Homo sapiens: one gene and its partner. The protein of the gene in region 1 interacts with the protein of each later gene in a pairwise test. Each region holds a gene or a part of one and is shown on either strand. Other genes may lie near its edges.

Region 1 (3,831 bases):
TATTCCCATTGCTTAAGAGTGTATTACATATGGTAGGTACCCAATAAAGAACTGTTGAATAAATAAGCAAAATAAATGCTATCAAGTCTTTGGGCTTTTTTCCAATGCAAGAAAAAATTCTACAAAAACAGTCTGTGAAAAAAATTACTTAAAATCAGATTTGTTGATGGTCAGACTTGCCCTTCTAGAATGTAAGCTCCACAAGAGCACATATGTTTCTGTTTTGTTCCTATATCTCCAATTCCTAGAACAATGTAAGAAATATAGATTCTCAGTAATTATCACCGAATATATAAATCATTAAGTCAGATTTTCTCAATACTCTCGCTAAATGCCTAAGAGATGTTTCTGAGACACTACCCTGGTTCTCATCAAGAATTATTCATAGTAACAGATTAATTTAACATGGTATACAGAGTTAAAGTAATGCAATTTAAATATGTATCATTAGTTCCCTCTCTCACACTATACACTTTTGTAATAAAAATCCTTGCTATTAAGGCTGATTAGTTTGATTAGTTTTCTCTGCTCTTCACATTTCACTGTGAGAGGGAGGCACTTCTATTCGCCCAAAAGGAAAATATATAGAATTCTTTCAGCTTCTCTCAATTCTTCTAAGTGTTCATTTTTTTCAGAGTGGTTAGTCTATAAGTTTACATATGTACTAGACCTAAATAGGATATTAATATACTACTATACATACTTTCAGTTGTAGAGAAGGATGTATCTAGTGTTAACTCATCCAGAGGAATCACAAGTTGACCTCCTGCCTCCCACTTCTTGCGATCAGATGAAACTGATTTTTCTTTTTCATGCTCTTTGGCATCTTCATGAACATTTATCTCAAAAGTATCAGAGAGATTCTGCTTTCCTTTTTCATCTTCTTGAGCTTTAAGATTTTCATTTAATCTACGAAGTATTTCTCGCTTACTCTGAAAGTCACGACATTATATATTTTAATATGTATATCATTAAGTAAAATGATTGATAAACTTTGAAAATTTTACTTACTGAAATAGCATTGTTGGTCTTTTGCATCTCTTCTGAAGTTTCCCGGGTATCAGTTAAACTACTGTCCTTTAAATGCAGATAGATACAGAGGAAGAGATAATTTTATTTTTTTAAATCTACCTTTAAAAATATTACATCCTCGTTACTTTTTGGTTTTCATTAATTTGTTCCTTGTAAATTTTTTATTCCTATAAAATGTTAACAAAGCTTCCTTCATTATCAGCAATGACTAACCTTTAAATATTATTAATTAGACAACATAGACAGGGGCCAATTCTCAATTATTTGTCATATTTTTAGATTACTGCTCACATAATTAACTATATCCTCTTCCTCTTTGGTACCTGATTTTTTGGTAATTTAAGTCAGAAAATTAGAGGAAAAAGTAGAAATTAGAGGAAAAAGTAGAAATTAGAGGAAAATTCATATACTCTCTTAATTATAACTAGAAAAAGTTTTGATAGATGAAGTAATTCAAAATAGGCTGTGTTATTCTAAAACTGTCTTTATGTTTCATGTATATATATCCTTGTTAAGCCATAGTACTAAATGTAATTGAGAAGTGGCTTTCCTCCCTAAACAAAGAGTGTAACAAAAATTAGTTCTGAGTCATTTGTACTACAAATGACATAAATGTTATCTCCTAATTAGCATTGTCAAAGCAATCCAGACTATCTAAAATTAAAAAACATACGAAAAGAAGAAATTAGCAGTTACGAAAGCTATGAAAGCAAAGGCATGTAGAAGATTCAAAGAACAATTTTCTAAGTTTTAAGTAAGTGACATTTACCAACACAACACAGAAAGAAAACCGTTCAGTTATATGGATTACCTCGAATTTTGTAATACTTAAAAAAAATTAAAAATTTGGTGGTCAGTTTCAAAGTAATATATGAAGCAATGAGACAAAGAACATTTTACCCAGTAAAGTAGTCAGGAATTAGCAGTCCTACAACCAGAGAGATGAACAGCTATTGAGATGTGAGACTGGGTACCAAGGAGGGACCACACAGTGGTATCTAAAGTTGGAGTAACAACGTGGCACACGCAAAGTCGTTATCAGAAAGAAAAAGTGACTAAGCCTACTTGAAGAACAATAGTTTCTTACATGAAGTTCTTGAGAATGATCAAGAAACTTATATTTTCCTACTGAGTTTTATTTTCAAAATCAACCCAAAGGCTATAAAAAAAAACAGCTAGTGTACCAATTTTGTCTGCAAATATTTACTGAAACTAAACAAATAAAAAGCACAGACATCCATTACCAGGAAAGGGGAAAATGAAGTTATTATGTTATCTGATTCAGTAGACTTTTCTCCTCCTGTCTGTTGAATTCTAGGCCGCAGCTCCACACTATGAGCCCACTTCTCTTAACCCCTGAACAGTCTTCACACTTCAGACAGATACCTGAAATATACTTCTAAGTTTAAGCTTTTTATTTGTCTATGTTTCTTTGTTTTACTATCTGTAGGGCATGACAGAGATTCAGAAGTAGAAGGTAAAAGGAATAACTGATGAATTAACTAGTTCTACTGAGTCCTCTAACATTTGCCATGTCACAAAATTTGAATAAATGTAAATATGTGTTGGACCTAATACCTAGAGCTACTTTAGCACCAAAGAGACATTATTCTTTTTAAAGTGAACATTTGTTAATCATGAGGGTTGGGTAGAAAAATGTTTATAGTATTATTTTCAGTACATTTCTCTGTATATTTTATTTTTTCAATATTCTTTTAAAGTAATATAAGAGTTATTGTGATATATTTTCATCTACCACGTGGTCCTAGATATAAAACTTATAAACAATGAGGCTCCAGTATTCTGAGTAAACTAAAATCCCTTAAAAAGTAATTTTTTTCCTTAGAAAAACCTGAAAGGGACATTAGGGATTAATGTGATTTCATTAAATTTAATTTCCTTTTAAATAATCTTTTGACTTTGAGGAGTTCTGAATCTTAGGAAACTTACCACGCCAACTTCTTTCAAAGCTGAAGTTACAGAAATAACAGATCTCATCTGTTGCTTTGATGGAGAGCCACCTGTTTCATGCTGTCCCAAAGGTGGAGAAACATCAGAACTCTTAACTCCTTTAGCCACCAACTATAAAAAAGGATTTTATTAAATACATTAGGGATTTTATATTTGTATGAAGAAATAAAATGGTACCTACCAGATCACTATTTATCCACTCTATCCACAAGTAGTTTTTTTCATTCCTGAATTATCTGTTGAGCAAGGCATTATGATGCTACATGCTGGGGATACAGCAGTGACTAGAGAAAAAAATCTCTGGTCTCAGATGTACACATAGTCATGTCACATAGTCCTAAATAACCCGCTTTCATTGCATTATCAATGTTTCATGAAATGATCCTGAAAAACTGTCTTTTAAAGATTCAAGTGTAAGATTTTGTTAATCTTACACTTCTAAAAGAAATGCTTTTGTAATTCCTGCAGGTTTGGGTACAATCTTCTCAAAGTTCAAATATCAATTACTCAACATAAGAGCCCTCATAAAAATGCCAACATAAATGAGAATGGAAGGAGAAACAGATCCAGGTAATAAGATTTACTTCACTGAAAACATCATGTTGTATTAACATATGTGCTTGTTTTTATGTTGCCATTTAAACTCTAAACAAAGTAAGATTATGAAACCTGAATTAATACAAGGAAATGACATTTATGGGTATGACAATAGTAACACAGCAGGAAGTTTACTCCCTACTCCCTATTCCTAGTCTTCCTCAATCTAGGAAACAAGACTTTCTGGGGAGTATACATTTCAAACACAATATTTATTGAGTATCTTCTAAA
Region 2 (3,831 bases), on another chromosome or scaffold:
TTAGTAGGGATGGGGTTTCATCATGTTGGCCAGGCTGGTCTTGAACTCCTGATCTCAGGTGATCTGCCTGCCTCAGCCTCCCAAAGTGCTGGGATTACAGGCTTGAGTAATAAACTAACAAAAGCTCTGAGCTACTTATAATTTGTAGAAAGCTTTGATAGGAATGCCTGCTTTCCAGAAAATTAGTATTAAGGCTTAAACCCAAGTAATATGGCCGTAATTTTGGTGCTGGAATGGCCTATGTTAGAAATTGCAAGATCTCTATATCGAGAGATCTTTATGAGTTGGAAAATATTTTCCTTTCTTAACCTGGGTATTTATCTTACTCTCTCTCCTCATCCTGCTCCTATTTTCATTAACCCAACTCAGCCAAACCAGATAAAAGCTGAATAACTGGCCATCATCCCTCTCCCTAATCGTCAAGGTTTTTTGTTTTTTTGTTTTTTTTTTTGTGTCATCTCGGCTCACTGTAACCTCCGCCTCCAGGGTTCAAGTGATTCTTGTGCCTCGGCCTCCCTAGTAGCTGAGATTACAGGCACACGCCACCATGCCCAGCTAATTTTTTTTTTTTTTTTTTAAGTAGAAATGGGGTTTCACCATGTTGATCAGGCTGATCTTGAACTCCTGACCTGAGGTGATCCGCCTGCCTCGGCCTCCCAAAGTGCTGGGATTACAGGCATGAACCACCATGCCCAGCCTCTATCTTCCATTCTTTAAAAATAAATCACCTGTCTTCCTTATCCACCCCAAATTAATTAAATAAAATTTTATTTGTATACTATTTACCAAGCATGAACCATGACTTTTCAATATGTGTTATTATGGGTTTTCTTTTTCTTAATTCTAATGGGAGTTATCATAGATTTGTATTAAGGTTTTACTTTTTTCTTTTTTTTTTTGAAGACAGAGTCTCACTCTGTTGCCCAGGCTGGAGTGCACTGGTATGAGCTCAGATCACTGCAACCTACGCCTCCTGGATTCAAGCAATTCTTGTGCCCTTGCCATCTGAGTAGCTGGGACCACAGGCCTGTGCCACCATGCCCAGCTAATTTTTGTATTTTAACTAGAGACAGGGTTTCACCATGTTGGCCAGGCTGGTCTCAAACTCCTGGCCTCAAGTTATCTGCCTGCCTCAGCCTCCCAAAGTGCTGGGATTACAGTTGTGAGCCACTGCACACCTGGGAATCAACTTCAGAGGTTTATGTGGTTTCATGTACAAATATATGGTTTCTAATTCTCCTGAATTGTCTTCAAAAACTGTTTACAGCTGTTTCTAGAAAAGACTGTAAATCTAAAAGTCAAAAAACTAATAAAAATTAAGGAGTGGAAAAATGTCTTTTGTTCCATTACACAAAGTTCAAGTGAAAGGGAGAATACTAAGTATATGATTTTTTCAAGCATCCCTACGGATAGCCTGAGAAGGTTCATAATATAGTAAAAATACATATATATTTTAGTTTTTCAAACCCTTTGCTATTTACTAAATATTTATTAGGTTGCTGCTAAAGTGATTGTGGTTTTTGCCATTAAAAGTAATGGCAAAAGCCGCAATCACTTTTGTACCAACCTAATACTAGGTAAATATTTAGACTGAACATGCCTAGAAAGCATTCTCTCAAAATACTTACTTCACCAAGGTTAAAATGTTTTCTATGCTTTTATACTTTTCTGTTTCACCCTACTTCATCTTTTGTTTTTCTTGAATCCTCAGTAAATTTTCATAACTAATTATGTTTTCACTCTCTCCTGAATTTTCATTCTAGAGGCAAATAACAGTAGAATTCAAAGCCTAAGTTGCCTTGCTGGTTCATAAACTACTTTTATTCCAAGATTACATCTTATATCTTAATCACCAAAAGCAAGGAAATGTTTTCTATCCCTATCAAGTGGTTTATTGTTAATGAGTGGCAAAAATTCTATTATTAAAAACAAAACAAAATTCAAGGGAGTAGTAGTTTTGGGACCCTCGAAGTATGCTTTAATTCCAAAAGGTGAATGAAGATTTAAAAGATTATTGGTGAAGACAGTATGCATATAAAATTTCACTGTGGTCATCTGATCCTATCATCGTACATCTTAACTACTACATATTAATAGTAGTCTATATTTCGGTTATTCAAGACATAACTCACGAGAACTCTCCCCTCCTAACCCCTTCTTTTAATGTAGATTAATCTCACATTTCTTCTTCTAAATGATTTTAGCTTAACGTACATTATTCTACTTAATAACTATAAAGGCTATAAAACGAAAGCTACAATGAAATGCTATTAATGCAGACCAAAAACATGAAAATAAATAGAACACTTACTGGCTCTGTTAGTGTTGTATCTTTCTCCAGGAACTGTACAACACAATATGCTAGCTAAAAGGTAAGGGACAGTTTATAAATATTAGTGAGATAACATTTAATAATGTAGGATTTTTATATTTAGCCAATATTTTTTAGACTACCTCATTTTGATAAATTATTCCAATATATAAAAATATACTCACAACTGTGAATGAAATTGTGAAATACCTCAATCGTGAAACTATACTCACAATTGTGTAACTTTTTAGCCTTGAAAGTAACTTCAAGTTTAAAAAACATTTTTAGTAGTAATTTCTGACTATAAAGTTAACTGAAATAAGACTAGAGCTAACAATTTAGTTTTTCAGCATGTTTCTACATGTACACCTATGCTGATATATTATTCTCTAAATATTAATAGAAGAGACCAAAATCTCTCTAACTAGGTCTAGGTTATTGCAGCTGGAAGAAACATTCTGTAGATATGTGGGATTTATTCAAAGTCACATAATTAGGTCAAGACCTGGACTATAATATGAGGAAAGTGTGTATCTTAAACTGTAAGTGTAGATATAGAAATTAAATAATTGGTCTTACTTAACAACTAAATACTTTAAAATAAGAAAAATTTGCTTTGGGTAATTTTGTAAGCAAATTGCTTAATTATACTTAAAACTGTCATCTCAGTATTTCTCAATTTCTCTGCCTTTATATTGGCCTTTGAAATAATATTCATTTCATCTGAAATGTTTCTGAAACTTACCTGAGCATGAAACAAAGCTAATCCTTTTGCAGTATGCATAGGAATAAGAACCTTCATTAGAAATTGTTTATGTTCTGCTTTCAGTGGCAATGCAAAGCCATTGATAATACTGGAGGGAAAAAAAGGCAGGGGAAGGGTTAAGTAGTTACTACTTTGTTTCTAAAAGCTGTCATATCCATGAGTACATAAGGAACAGTGCTATGCTTCAATCCTGGTGTTGTATGACTGCTCATCTTCAAACTACTTTAGGAAGACTATTACTATGAAGTCTGTTCCTCTAAGTCATTTGATGATTCCAAAAGAAAATTAGGACTGTCAATTAATTCCCAAGTAATTTCTATCTTCATTTTCTATCAAACCTGTCACTTTATGCATTGTTGCTTTTATTTTTGCCCCCAAAGCTCCAGGAGAGTCAGTACCACAATATTGTTAGAATGTTCAATATTTTTCTGAAGTAAATGGGTAATTTTTCTTACTTTGTTGGATAACGTGAAAGAAGTAGTTCTCTCCACAATCATTTTCTACTATTAATAAAGGAAACTAAAATCATTGTCTAAATAGTAACAGAAGGGTCTAAAATTCTCTTAATACTAATACGTAGTGAATAAGGAAGGCAAAGTGTTATGGCAAAAGGTAATAAGAATTCAGCTGAGGCTGGGCATGGTGGCTCACGCCTGTAATCCCAGCACTGTGGGAGGCCGAAGGGGGTGGATTGCCTGAGGTCAGGAGTTCAAGACCAGCCTGGCCAACACGGTGAAACCCCATCGCTACTAAA

The links.
Region 2: the proteins of NEK1 (region 1) and PPP2R5A interact in a two-hybrid assay, tested with the Homo sapiens proteins (one study listed by BioGRID).

Annotation. Positions count from the first base shown.
Region 1 is NC_000004.12:169,476,421-169,480,251, forward strand, and holds part of NEK1 (serine/threonine-protein kinase Nek1), read right to left. Parts: intron 3,115-3,831; coding exon 2,983-3,114; intron 1,961-2,982; coding exon of another isoform or gene 1,952-1,960; exon of another isoform or gene 1,104-1,951; intron 1,078-1,103; coding exon 1,012-1,077; intron 933-1,011; coding exon 704-932; intron 1-703. UniProt on the Homo sapiens protein: Phosphorylates serines and threonines, but also appears to possess tyrosine kinase activity. Involved in DNA damage checkpoint control and for proper DNA damage repair.
Region 2 is NC_000001.11:212,347,723-212,351,553, reverse strand, and holds part of PPP2R5A (serine/threonine-protein phosphatase 2A 56 kDa regulatory subunit alpha isoform), read right to left. Parts: intron 3,166-3,831; coding exon 3,057-3,165; intron 2,366-3,056; coding exon 2,312-2,365; intron 1-2,311. UniProt on the Homo sapiens protein: The B regulatory subunit might modulate substrate selectivity and catalytic activity, and might also direct the localization of the catalytic enzyme to a particular subcellular compartment.